Regions from separate parts of the Homo sapiens genome. Here region 2 is reported to be linked to region 1. Evidence: microRNA targets listed by miRTarBase, many of them from high-throughput screens and not tested one by one. Region 1 holds a microRNA gene; the other region holds the end of a gene's coding sequence. Distances are between the middles of the regions.
Evidence for each region. Region 1 holds the annotated microRNA hsa-miR-6732-5p (UAGGGGGUGGCAGGCUGGCC, at 2,531-2,550, shown strand). A microRNA usually pairs through its seed, bases 2 to 8, with sites in the 3' UTR of a target mRNA and lowers its output. Matches are read on the target gene's strand: a 7mer-m8 pairs with bases 2 to 8, a 7mer-A1 pairs with bases 2 to 7 and ends in A, and an 8mer does both.

Region 1 (7,119 bases):
CCCGGCTGGGGGACCCTGACCTTACAGGCAAAGAGAACTGGAATGGGGGCAGGGATGTCTGGTTTTCCTGTGCCAGCAGCGCTTCCTCCAGTGCAGTGAAAGAGACTAAAGCTAGCTGTAGGGGGGCACTCCAGGCCTCATGTGCTCTACCAGGAGGAGGGCTCTGATAGCGCCCACTGATCAGTTTTTCCATCTGCTGAGGGAATATTCAGGTGCTAGGGCTGCTGAGAACCGACTTGTCCCAGCCAAGATTTTCAGTGCCCACAGGCAGTGCACTGCCCTGAGAGCCCTGGCATCCCATTAGTTCCCAGTGCTCCAAGATACTAGCCTAGGATCATGTGCCCGGAGGGAGGCAGGTGGGCGGATACATGCGCACACTGCATACCTGAGACAAGGAGCCAGGCCTGGGATGACCCAGCTGCCATGGTTTTGAGAGGCAGGCCAGAAGGCCCAAGGAAGGGGGGTGATGTGATGGGGGAAGCACTGGGCATTGTGAAGACACAGACCAGGGACCTGACCTATTGTGGCAGGTCAGGGAAGGCTTCTCAGAGGCAGTGACATCTCACAAGGGTTCTGAAGGAAGAGCAGGAGTTTGCCAGCAGCATTGTTTCTCCCGTTCGCCACCTGTCTCTCATAACACACTTTGTTCAAACTCAATTTTGGGAGCTTTGTTCTCCCAAATAAATTCTGGATCTTCTGTTAGAGACAGGAAGGCAACCGAGTGGCCCAGACCTGGGTTCGAGTTCTGACTGTCTCTTACCACTAGCCAGGTGACCTTCCTTTCCTTCACGGTAGCAAGCCCTATAAGAATGAAGCCATATATCTGGCCACCAGCGGGAGCTCAGTGCCTGCGAATCCCTGCTCATTCCCTGCGATCAGGGTCTGTGCCTGCCTTCGTACCTGCCTGAGCATTGACGTACAGGGTAGTGATAAGCATAGGCCCTGGGCTTGCGTCTCTCTTCCACCGTTAACTGCTGTGTGACCCTGGTGACTAAGCTGCCTTCTCTGGACCACAGTTTTCATCTGAAAAACAGGGAAGGAGTTGATGATGGTATAGTGCCCTCCTCACAAGCTTGCTGATGATTCAGTGTTAGACACTTATAACAGGGCCTGGTTCACAGCTCTCAGCAAATGGGAACTTTTATTATAAGCAGGCTGGCAGATGTGGCAGAGGGACCGGGAAGGATGAGTGCTGCCCTGGGCTGGACTTTGTCTCCCCTACAATTTAGAGACCTTCAGACCCTGGTGCCCCAGTCTTGCCCCCAAATAGCCTCCATGGCCCCCAGCTGCCCCACCTCCCTCCCTAGCTTCTCTTAGGGCTCCAGCTATCACCCCTTACCTCCCCCACTCCCATTAAAGACACCCACAGGATGTGGTTGGCCCTGGACTTGCCTCTTTTGCGTAACATTTATTCTGTTTTATTTGCCAAATACGAGAGTCTAAGCTGTTCACTGAGGGGGCAGTGAGACGTGGGGCTGCTGGTCCTAGGAGCTCTTCCATGACACCTAGTGTTACCTGGGAGCCCCAAGCCCCAGTCCCCCATCCCTCAGGAAATCCAGTTGGAACCCCTACTTTGCAGGGCCATCTTTGGCCTGAAGCCACCAGGAAAGCTGTCCCACTGACTGACCCCTCTTAAGGAAGCTGCAGACTGCTGGGCCCATTTTCAGATAGAGGAACGGAGAGCTGCGGCAGCCCAGGAGCCCTGCCAGGCTTCCTTCTGGGTGCAGCCACCTGTGGGTGGGGCGCGGCCTCGTCTGAGACCAAGGCAGGGCCCATGCCTTACTCAGCTGTCCTTGCTAAGAGTCCCCTAGCATCTTCCTGATGGTCTTTCTGCCTTGGGGTGAAGAGGCATTTGGGGGAATTGCCATCTTGGGAGGAAAAGCAGTATCCTTTCACTTTCAGACTGAAAGGCTCCTGGGGAACTTGCTTCACTCCGGCGCTTTCTGTCCCATGCTGAAGGCTGGAGTCGCCAGCCCCTTCCCCTTTGCCTTTCTCAGGCCCCAGTCCCTGAGGTGTGTGTGAGGACTGAACTTTAATCCGGAACAATCTGGTTTCTCCTCGGTCAGCCCAGCCGGTGCTTCCCCCGCCCCCACCCACGCTGCAAGAGGCGAGGGAGGGGTGGTGACTCAGTGTGCATGTGTACATCTGTCCCTGTGGTCCCGGCAGCTCGCCGGGTGGGGCAGGAACCAGAAGTCTCGCGGCACCTTTCCCCCACCCCCAGGTGTGTTGCAAGTGGCCTGGCCCTCCCCCACCGTGGGGAGCAGTGCTGCCAGCTTCCTGGGCGCTTCCTCACTTTCAGGAGATGGAGCCTCAGGGAAAGTCCCAGCGGGGCCTGGCCATCCTGGAGCTGTGGGAACTGGCACTGGGAATGGAGGCCTTGGCCTTGGGCCCCACCTGCAGAGGGCCAGGGCCTGAGCCCTGGGGAAAGGGGAAGGGGCTGGTGACTCCAAAGGGGAAGGGACTGCTCACTACCACCACCAAAGCCAGGGCAGGGGTGGGGTGTGACCACCTCCCTCCTCCTGCTCAGGCCTAGGGGGTGGCAGGCTGGCCATCAGTGTGGGCTAACCCTGTCCTCTCCCTCCCAGCCATGGGAACAAGGAGGTCTTCTCCTGCCGGGGCATCCTGCTGGCAGTGAACTGGTTTCTGGAGCGGGGCCACACAGACATCACAGTGTTTGTGCCATCCTGGAGGAAGGAGCAGCCTCGGCCCGACGTGCCCATCACAGGTGAGTGGTGCCTCTGGAGGTGGGATGGTCTTACTGCCCCAGCAGCCCTGGTTCTCCCCAAGAGAGACCCTCTGGGAGTGACCTACAACTTCTAGAACTCAAGCAGGGACCAGCATTTCTTTTCTCAGTTTTTTCTGTCCTTAGCAACCTGCTCTGAATGGTGGTCATTGGAGGTCACCTTGTCCAGTCTTCTGCCTCAGATCTGGAGCCCCTCCCTCATCCTACTGGTGGGCAGGTCGCTCTTTCAACATCCCCAGTGGCAGAAGCGCAGTATCACATAGTGGTTAAGCCTGTGGGCTCTGAGTCGAGACAGCCAGAGTTGGAATCCTGGCTCTGTCCCCTCTTGGCGCCCTGGCCTGGACAGGGACCCCTCTTAGCCCTGCTCTGAGCCACATGCTCCTCATCTGAAACATGGGGTCGGTGTCAGCAGGGGGTGTTGACAGCATTGCCTTCCTCGTGAGGTCATATAAGTTAACACACGGTAAGTGCTGAGAAGAGTACCTGGCACATGGTAGATGCTCAGTGTATGTTAGCTGTTACCACTGTTCTTGCAAGAGCCCCCAGCCTTTGGAGGTAAAAACTGAATCAGTTTCTCTAGAAGTCTTGAGATCTGGGGGCAGCCTGTCTGGGACTGTAGGCTCCAGGAAGAGGGGCCCTTTCCACTTGCACACTTCTGTGTCCCTGTGGTCCCAGCAGCTCCCCAGGTGGGGCATGGTGAGTGGCCTGACCTTTTCCCACCATGGGATTTAGCGACCTTGTCCTGGCAATGCAAGGGACAGAGCCAAGATACTTCTCCCACCCCAGAGCAAGCTGCGGCTCATTCACGGACCCCTCAGAACAGGCTGGATGAAAGCCAAAGCCAAGACCACATCTGGCTTGAACAGGCCTGATGTCCAGAAGGAGAAAAGGAACAAGGCCAGCTCTGTGCTTGGAGCCTCTGCCATGCAGGCCCTGCCGCCTGTGTTCAGATGTTCTTGGTCTTCAGGCAGCAAACTGTGCCACGCCAAGGGAGGGGCTGGGGCATGGAAGAGGCCTCAGCAGAGTTAGTTCTTGCCCCGGTGACCTTGGCGTTAACCACTCCTGTGTGTGGCCATCAGCAGGTTAGGGAGCCCTGTAGGCCTGGCTCTAGGTCCCGCTGGGCCCTGACCTGTGTGCACCCGTCACCTCCCAGACCAGCACATCCTGCGGGAACTGGAGAAGAAGAAGATCCTGGTGTTCACACCATCACGACGCGTGGGTGGCAAGCGGGTGGTGTGCTATGACGACAGATTCATTGTGAAGCTGGCCTACGAGTCTGACGGGATCGTGGTTTCCAACGACACATACCGTGACCTCCAAGGCGAGCGGCAGGAGTGGAAGCGCTTCATCGAGGAGCGGCTGCTCATGTACTCCTTCGTCAATGACAAGTATGTTCCCTCCCAGAGGCCCTGACAGACTTGGGGTCCACAGGGGAAGCCAGAGGTGCCCTTGGCAAGGGTGGAGCTGGGGGCTGGGCTCTGCGGGGCCCTGTGGCCATGGGAGGTTGCGGGTCTTGGCTCCAGGCAGCTTTGAGAGTGAGACGGATAGCTCACCACATAGGAGAAATCAGACCGGGACCAGGCAGGCTGTGGGGTGGAGAGAGTGGCTAATTTGGGAGATAGAGCCGTAGCACTTATGAGGGGATGTATGTGGTTGATGGTTCCAGGTGGCCTCTCTACGAACCAACATGGCATCTCTCGAGCAGAGGCCATGGGCCAGTGGGTGCGGGCTGCCATCCCCCGACGACCTCAGAGAGGGAGTTCCCCTAAAGGTGCCCATGGGCTGTGGCCCTCTAGACCGGGGATCCCTTTCTCCTCCCTTGGTATGATCCCACCCATAGAGCAGTTTTGCGGGGTCCTGGACAGGCCCCAGTTTTAGGTGTCACTCTCCTATTCTTCCCAGCAAGGCTTGCCATCGGCCCCTTCTCAGCAATTAGAAGTCCCTGCATGGCTCCCACCTCCAGAGAGTTCTTTGCACCCTCTGCAGGTTTATGCCCCCTGATGACCCACTGGGCCGGCACGGGCCCAGCCTGGACAACTTCCTGCGTAAGAAGCCACTCACTTTGGAGCACAGGAAGCAGCCGTGTCCCTATGGTATGGAACCCAGCCTGCCCTCCCCGGCCCTCCTCACTCCTGCCCTTCCTCTCACCTGTCTGCCTGTGCCCTGTTTTCCTCTTGGGGACCTCCACCATTGGACCACCCAACCCCGTTTCCTGTGCCACCCCTTCCCTGCTCTCATCCCTGGTTCTGAAGTGCCCCTGCTTAGAGTCCCTCTTGATTCCTCTTCCAGGAAGGAAATGCACCTATGGGATCAAGTGCCGATTCTTCCACCCAGAGCGGCCAAGCTGCCCCCAGCGCTCTGTGGCAGATGAGCTCCGTGCCAATGCTCTCCTCTCACCCCCCAGAGCCCCAAGCAAGGACAAAAATGGCCGGCGGCCTTCACCTTCATCCCAGTCCAGCTCTCTGCTAACAGAGAGTGAGCAGTGCAGCCTGGATGGGAAGAAGCTGGGGGCCCAGGCATCCCCAGGGTCCCGCCAAGAGGGTCTAACACAGACCTATGCCCCATCAGGCAGGAGCCTCGCACCTAGCGGGGGCAGTGGCAGCAGCTTTGGGCCCACAGACTGGCTCCCACAGACGCTGGACTCACTCCCGTACGTCTCCCAGGATTGCCTGGACTCGGGCATTGGCTCCCTGGAGAGCCAGATGTCGGAACTTTGGGGGGTTCGAGGAGGAGGCCCTGGTGAGCCGGGCCCACCCCGAGCCCCTTACACGGGCTACAGTCCCTATGGATCTGAGCTCCCAGCCACCGCAGCCTTCTCTGCCTTTGGCCGGGCCATGGGTGCTGGCCACTTCAGTGTCCCTGCCGACTACCCACCCGCGCCCCCTGCCTTTCCACCTCGAGAGTACTGGTCTGAACCATACCCACTGCCCCCACCCACATCAGTCCTTCAGGAGCCCCCAGTGCAGAGCCCAGGGGCTGGCAGGAGCCCGTGGGGCAGGGCAGGCAGCCTGGCCAAGGAGCAGGCCAGCGTGTATACTAAGCTGTGTGGTGTGTTTCCCCCGCACCTGGTGGAGGCTGTGATGGGGCGCTTCCCACAGCTCCTGGACCCCCAGCAGCTGGCTGCCGAGATCCTCTCCTACAAGTCCCAGCACCCCAGTGAGTAAGCTGCCTGTGGCTGGCAAGGGCAGCACCCCCAGCCTCCAAGGGCCGTCAGGCTGGGCTTTGGGCCATTGAGCAGCCCATTCCCAGCCCTGAGGCCCACCCCAGAGGCTGGACAGAGGGAGGATTCAAGTCGGGAAGGAAACCCACAAACCAAAGATACTGTAGGATTGGTTCTGGCCCATGCAGCACCTCTAGCTGTCTGCCTCAGTGGGTCAGAAGCGATCACCCTGTTGATACACATTGTATCTCTGTAGTTTAAGGAGACGCTGCCGGTAACGGCGTCGGTCCGTGGCTGAGGCCCAAACCGTCTTTTCTCTCAGAGGGTGGGGAGGGAGGTGGGGGCAGCAGAGGCCTGGGCTGGGTGCCCTGTGCACGCCACCCCACTTCCGCCCTACCCCTGGGACGTTGGCCTTGGCTGGCTAGTTGGGCACCGTGTGCCTGCCCTCCAAGGGCCTCCTCTACGCCAATGAGGCCTCATCTGTGCTCTCGCTGGGCACGTGGCTTCATGTCAGTAAGCAAGATGCTTCTTAATAACCCACCTTCTGCCCCACTCTATTCCTTATCCTGCTGCCCCTGTAGGGGTCAAGGGCCCTCCGTCTACACCCTCTTCTTCTCCTCCATCCTTTATTCAGAGTCATCTCGCCCTTCCCCATGGGTGGGGGAACCTGTGTTTGTTTGTGTGCACATGTAAATTTTAAATATTTTAAGCAGAAAGTCCTTACCTCCTGTAACACATCAATAAAGTACAATCATTGTGAGCCCTTTCAAGAGGTGATTGTCTTTGTTATGCTCAGGGCTTTGGGCTGGCCTCTGGGTGAGGAAAGGCCAGCAGGTATGCACCCCGACCTCCTTCACCCCAGGAGGAAGCCCCTCCACACCAGCTCCCTGACCCTTCTCTGGAAGGAAGATTTCTAACAAACATTCACCAGGAATGCATAGCTCCTTGGGGATGGGGCATCTTTCCCGAGGCCTTGGTCTGGGCCTTGTTAGGAGGTGCCCATGGACGCACGAGCGGGCAGGGGGCTGGAGGGGGCAGTTAGGCAGCAAAAGTGTAAAAGGATTTGGAGTCCAGTTTTATCTGCAAAAAGAAATCTTACTTACAATATACTTGGGCTTCTGTTTGTTTTTGTGGGACAGGAAGCTAAAATACCAGACTGTCCAGTTCATTATCAGCCACTTGGCAATGCTGAATGACTTGCCCAAGGTCCCGCAGA
Region 2 (7,111 bases), 170 Mb from region 1:
CTTCATAATAGTTCATACAGATATTCCTCATTCTTTTTTCAGAGCTGCATAATGCTCCACTGTTTGGATATAACATAGCTTATTGAGCAAGTCCTACATATGAGCATTTAGGTGGTTTCCAGTCTTTTGCAATGACAAACAATGTTTTGGTGAATATCCTTGTACTGTATATTTTCATATTATTGGAGGTATATCTTCAGAGTTCATTTCTAGATGTGAGACTGGTGGATCAAAGGGTAAATGCGTATGTGTGGGGTTTTTTTTAGATATTGGAAAATTCCCCTATAAAATGGCCGTATCAGTTTGCATTCCCACCAATAATATATAAAAACATCTGATTTTCCACAGCCACACCAATAGGAAGTCTGGTCACATGAAAACCACATTCTCAACATAACTAGAAGACAAAGCACCTACTTCAAATTGCCTATAAGAAAACAAACAAAACAAAAACAACCCAGGAGTCCTTCACACTGCTCCTAGAAGCCTCTGTGGTGAGCAAGGGCAGTCTGTGGAAAGACTTCAATGAAAGTGAAAAAAGCTGAGCTAGCAAAGTCCTCAAATTGCTCCAAAACCATTGCCAGAAAGTAAGAGTCTGCCGTAAAAATGAAAATGCTGAAAAGGTGTCCTTGTAGACCAGAGCACTAACTACAAGCACTACCTTCAGGAAAGGGCCATAAACATAATGTGATCTGAGTTGATAGCCTTTGAAAGGTGTAGTTCCTAAAAGAGGAAAAGGTCAAAAGGAAGGGGAGCCATCCTTTGGTGATAGGATGGTAGAAAAAAAAAGTGAAATAAAATAAGAAGTTGTGGAGTGTTTTGAGACAAAACAAAAATTAGAAGGAATGCAGCTCTCCCCTCCACAGCTTCCATTATAGGTCAGCCTCTGAGGTCACAGCAAGTTGGAGTGTGCTAGAGAGTGGTCCTGGATGAACAAACAGAAAATATCCATCACAGTAGGAGACTTATAAATAGGAAGAAAGTGGAGAGTTGATGAACATACTGCAGTAACTAAACTAGAAAGCGGAAAAGATTATATTGAGCAAGAAAATATGCCTGAATTAGTGATTTAAGAAGGTTCCATGGAGATGAGTGACTCAGGTAGAGTGAAGGAGGTCATTAGAAATCAAAAGGTCAATAAAACCAGAGGCACAGATGTTATAAGGAGTCATCCTTGTCAATGTGAAATAATTATGGATAATACCAGATTGTAGGATGGTTGGGAGACAGTGAGCCAGTTCCAAATCCCTCAACAGACAGGGGTGGGTGACCAGAAAGTAGGGGGATTGCAATAACAAGGGGTGGAAGAGGATCATACAGTGGGTTTGAATGTGCAAACAAATCTCTGATAGGCAAAAATATCTCATTGCACTTTCATTCCACATAGTACCAGGCATAGAGGTGAAGTTGGTGCCCTATTTTATTCATCATTGCTATTTGCAGACCAGTCCTCCTTCCTTTCCACAAAACCCTTTCCTTCGAGTCACGTATCATCAGAATATAGCACCTGCTATCTTCTTGTTTGCAATCATCTTCAGATGTACAAACCACTCATTTCGTGAAGATTTTAGCCCCTGACTCAGTATCACTCTCTAACATGAATCCCCATGCTTCTTGGTGATTTCAGTATCAATTAAGATGTTCCATGGCCTCCTCCGCACCAATACTTTTGTCCACCATTTTATCTCAACTTCTCACAACCATAGTTCTGTTTAAACCCTTGTATCACCAAAATCTAGAAGGCTTCAGTGTTAGTTTAGATAATGTCAACCACAATAACGTAACACACCAATCCCCAAAATGTTAGAACTCAAACATTACAGAAGTTTATTTCTTCTTCACATGAAATCTAAAGTGGGTGTTCTTGATCAGCAGACAGCTCTCCTCAAAGCAATGACTCAAGCTCCTTCCTTTCTGTGGTTCTGTTATCTTTAGCACATGACTTACTAGGTTACTACAGTCACTTTCATCAACTCAGTGTAGGGAAGGAGGCAAGGAGGATCACATATGGGGATGTTTTAGGGCCAGACCCAGAAATGCTACACATCTCTGATCACGTTCCTTTGGCCAGAACTCAGTCCTATGTCTACACTTAACTGCAAGAGTGCCAGGAAATGTGTCTAACTTTGTGCCCAAAATGAAGGGGAAGTGTATTTGTAGACAGCTTTGTCCTCTGGTTGCCAATTCTGTTTTACCCTCAATTGACGCATTCTTATTTCTCACTACTGCATATTACCATTCTAGTTCATCCTAAATAGTACCCCAAGTCTAACAATGACATGACCCCATTAAGGTCTACAAAATATTGATCCTGTTACTCATTGTTTCTTACCACTCATATGTCTTCACTTCCCTTCTCACATAGCTTAAATTCTATGGTCCATCATTTTAATCACTCCCTTGTGCACATGCTCAACTCACGTCATCAAATTCACCTGGGAACACCCAATCATGATTAAATCCAAGCAACTGGTTTTTTCTGAGACTGTATCTAGAAAGCTAAATATGACTGCAGAAAAACTCAGAACGAAGCTTGATGATTGCACTCTAAATTCATGAGCACTCACCTCAACTGGGTCTTTAGCATTGCCTGCTAATTGACTAAATGTCTCTAGTCCTTTCCTTCTCTGCCTGTCTTCAAACATAACACCTCCTCATGTGTCATCATTTTTATGATGACCTTGATGTATATGTCCCTGAGAAAACAGAAGAAATGTGAAATCAATTTCCAAAAGCTGCCACCATGGGCATCTCCAACCCACCTGCAACAGTTCCCTCCTAGTATGTACTGAAGCCCTGCATGCTTCCACCTAAGGCAATCTCTCCACCTGTGCACTAAAAAGAGCTAAAACTTACTGAGCACTTACTACATGGCTGGCACTATTTTAAGCTCTACGTGTATTAACTTAATTCTCATTGCAAATCCTATGAGGCTGGTACTGATTTTAGGCCCACTTTACACATAGATAACTAAGGTACACTGACAAGGAACATCCCTTGAGTCCTGCAGCTGATAAATGCCAGGGCTCCGATTTGTCTCCAGAATCCATGCTTTTCACCAAGGAGAATTATAGGAAAAACATTTGACATTTTAGTAAATTACCCTACCAGAGTGAATGGACAGTTACTCTTTTTAAAGAGATGTGTGTGGGGGTTGAGATGGAAGACATGACAAAGGAACAAGGAAAACACCTCCGCCACCTCTTAACAATGAGTCATATGGATGAAAATAAACCAGCCACCACTGGAATAGGCTGCAAAGGAAGCAGTACCTTCAGGGAAGGGGCTGTTTTTAGTTTCGGTAAGGAGGAAGAAAACACTCAGGATGGGTGGGAGGAAAATGAGGCATTTGCACATTGGACATTAACCAAAGCAAACAGGGCTAGGGTGTGACAAGACAAAAATTATTCATGTTCAAGTATTCCCAGAAAAGTGACAGTGATAGGGGGCTAAATATTATAAAACTCAAATTTCTACAGTGAGCAGGTATAACTTGCTGTAACAAATACATCAGTCTCAAGAGGAAAAGCAATACAACCTTTGCAATCAAAGTAAAATCTCACAGGAGAGGTTATCTTAAGCAAAAATAAAACCACTCAACCTCATAACTACAGGATACACGGTAAATATAAATCCTACAAGAAAATATCTTTACCCTCACAAGCCTACTGTTTATATTTTCTTCAAGGTAAATGACTGTTTAATAGTATTTCCGCTTTTACCCTTATCTAAATAGCAAGTTCTTGCTATTAGAAACCTATTTTATGCTCACTGATTCTAATTAGATCGAGCAGAATAAAAAGTCTAGAGCTTACAAATTTTCACTTCTACACAGAACACATGACATAGTCTAGCCCTTGCTCTAAGCCTTTCCTACTTCGACCATCCTGCCACTATAATCTCATCTATTACTGCTTTCTCAATCAGCTTTCTGCCTTGAATATCTCCCTCCCTGCCACTCAACTGCTTAACAAACAGCTTAAGCACCCACCATATTCGGGGCTGTAACACTCGTAACTTTATCTTCTTTCTCTCAATAAGTATATATTTTGGTCTTCCTGTGGCAAACTATAAGCAACTTGAGGGCAGACACTTGCAGTTATCTTGGTAAGCTCACATTTTAGCATATGACAACTTGCACATAGTAGGCACTCAGCTTTTTTTCTGAATAGCTGAGCCAGTGTTATTGCTATCCCTGGAAGCACTGGGTTATTACAGAATAGGCAGAGCGGGCCCTCATATTTAACAAATGAATGAATGAATAGGTGGATGGATATGTGCCTACTCTTAGAACTTCTAGGAAAGTTCAAAGAATTTCCTAATATTAGAAACTATTAGGAAATTAGAAACTATCACAACTGCTAGTTGTGATAACTGTGGTTAAGGAGGAAAAAAAGTTTTATTTTAAGAAATACACATTAAAGTCTTTACAGTGAAATGCCATGAACGTATGAAATTTAAAGTACTTCAACAACAAAACAGATGAAGCAAAATGACAAAATAAACATTGCCATAATAAATCTAGTTATATTCTATACAACTAGTACATCTTAGTCTAGTCTAACACTTAAAATGTAATTGGCAAGATGACAAGAATATGGTAAAAACCTAGAAATTAATCAGATTGCCTTCAGGTAAATCAGTAACAAGTAATATAGATACTCTAATAGGAAAGGATATGACATGCTTGAGAAAGTACAATATAATTTTAAAGTAGCTGAAAATTATTCACACTAGGACAACCAAGGCATGGCATTCTGAACTGCTTGTAGGAAGCAGGTAGGGAATTTCTTATTTAGAAATAAAGTAGTCACGTTTAAGAATAAATTTCACATACTACATGATACCAAAAAATGGGATCATTTATTTCTATTTAGGAAAAATACATTTTTCTTCACATATCTTCTTCAACTTTTCTTGTTTTACATGTAAAATCAGAATGTTCACTGTCATAAATAAATATAAATAAATATTACAAAAGAATAAGATTTACAAATTTGACTATGGACATCTCGATTCAGAAATAATATATAATCTTTTCTTATGTTAATATTGTAGTATCTCTGGATACTTTTAAAGACATTAAGTCAAAGAAGACACCTTTCACAGGCTTTTTCCAAACTCTATTTGTGCAACAAAGGAAGATTCAGTCTTTCATTCTATATTCCTCCCTTATCACCATCAACACCCCTGGTTCACCAGCATGTTTTACCTTTAAAATATTTTGCCAACCCGAAGGAAAGATGAAAATGCCTTACAGCCAAAGATTACTTTATAATGTGGTTCATCTCTCTTTAGCAATTTTGCTTAGAAGAGACTGAATTGGGTTTTTATTTGCTTTTGATATCCAAATAATGTTTTTCATTTTTTATTTCCTTTATAAGTGGAAATAACATTACAGATCTTGTGGAAAAAAATCACTTTCCTTCTCTTTTCCTCGTGATCCCATTCTAAATACGAACAAATCTCTATGCTTTCTTACACTTTTAGGAAAGGAATCACTCTCAATTCTGCAAGTTGTTCTATTTTCAAGAGGTGTAGGTGTGCTAAGAATGTGATTCCAGGACTGCCTTTTTTCTCCTTGCTCTGTTGACATTCCTAACACATCTTAAAGACAATGAAAGCATCCTAAATGAAGAGCACAATTGCATTTATTTTATCCAATATGCAGATAAGTCTAAGAAACTAGGAACAGTCTGTATACTTGTGTGTATTTTCTTCTTAACTCTTCTTTGGCTAAGTCAGCAAGCCCATGGTTACTAGCGTCCCAAGCAAACCTGTCAACGTGAAACACGTGTGCCCTGAAAATTAAAAAAAAAAAAAAAAAAAAGTTAAAATCAAAATGATTTTATTTACTAGTGATAAATATAAATTTTTAGTTACTATGTGATAAATCACCAAAAAGAATCAGTTAATTTGGGGTGCAAAACAAAAAAAATAATGAGTAATAGAATATGGACAAGATTCTACAGGTGGGGTTTATCAGCTACAGCAACAACTAAAATGTGACGTGGAGTTTTTAGTTTCTCGAGTTGAACAGTGGCTAAGCTAGAATGAATTAAGGTACCTTCAGATTAAAAGTCAATGAATTCCTAAGTGTGGGAGATGTTAAAAAAATATAAAAATAAATAAAAACCCCTGAATACTACTACATGTGGAAGAGAAGATTAAGAGATGAAGACACTCAGAAAGTTTTACAGATACATTTACACCAAGTTATTTTTGTGTGATAATTTTGTATAAAGATATGAGATGTCTTTTAAGATCTATAAACATGACCTATAAAAGGATATCTTAGCACATATTATAATTTTTCTTAAACATTGAAAACTCTAAAAGCCACCAAGCAAAAGGAGAAATACAAGGTAGGTCAACCATCTCATGATGCAAATTATCATAATGAAGGCATTCTCTTTAAAAGTCCTAATGTATCATCCCTTTCCCCCCGAATATTTGTGGCATTATAGCATCTAATCGTTACAATAAACTGAGTTCAAAATGTAGGATGAGATGATAAGCATTACTGCTACCAAGTCCAGAACTGACGATATGTCATAGTAATGAGAGATTCAATGTATTAGTCATTCAACAAAGAAAAAAACAACTCTAGTGACAGAGACTTAAGCCTCTATTATCCTTTAAAAGTCATGAAGAACCCCCTAGCCAAGGGTATTAATGGATATTTTGCAAGATACAGAAATGTAATTTTATTAAACCATATATACCTTTTATAATTTACCAGAAAGTCTTATTTCTGAGGTACCACCAGTCACACTTAAATGGTCAAACACAACATTGAGTACTTTGTTGCTCTCATGTGCATTATAAGAGCTGAATAGTAGAGAAGAAAAAAACTATTGAATTGAATTATGTAACTGTCATTTCAATCAAAAAACGAAGTCAGGCATCTGCTTACACTTCCATCCCTAAACTAAAATTTATCATACAGACCTAACTCTTCTAAAAGAAATAAATCAATCCTCTGATAGGCAAACATGAAGAATCATTAAATGAAACCACATTATCACTTGCACATTAACTATATCCTGTCTTAATTAAGATCAAATATTTAATTAAATCAGTATGAAATCAGGAGGCTAGCCAAACATAT

Region 2: the mRNA of CD55 is a reported target of hsa-miR-6732-5p. The part of its 3' UTR that is shown has no 7-base or 8-base seed match.

What each region holds. Positions count from the first base shown.
Region 1 is chr1:37,477,705-37,484,823 of GRCh38, forward strand. MIR6732 (microRNA 6732) reads left to right here and starts at 2,526; the gene lies at 2,526-2,585. ZC3H12A (zinc finger CCCH-type containing 12A) reads left to right here. Exons shown (of 6, transcript NM_025079.3): 3 at 2,586-2,725; 4 at 3,897-4,131; 5 at 4,730-4,836; 6 at 5,033-6,673. The coding sequence ends at 5,907. RefSeq lists enhancers at 1,221-2,047, 1,671-2,210, 1,984-2,278, 2,048-2,874, 6,634-6,763.
Region 2 is chr1:207,358,236-207,365,346 of GRCh38, reverse strand. It overlaps CD55 (CD55 molecule (Cromer blood group)), which reads right to left. Exons shown (of 10, transcript NM_000574.5): 10 at 4,381-5,801. The coding sequence ends at 5,737. Among named protein-coding and RNA genes, the nearest start is that of CD55, 40 kb to the right of the region's middle.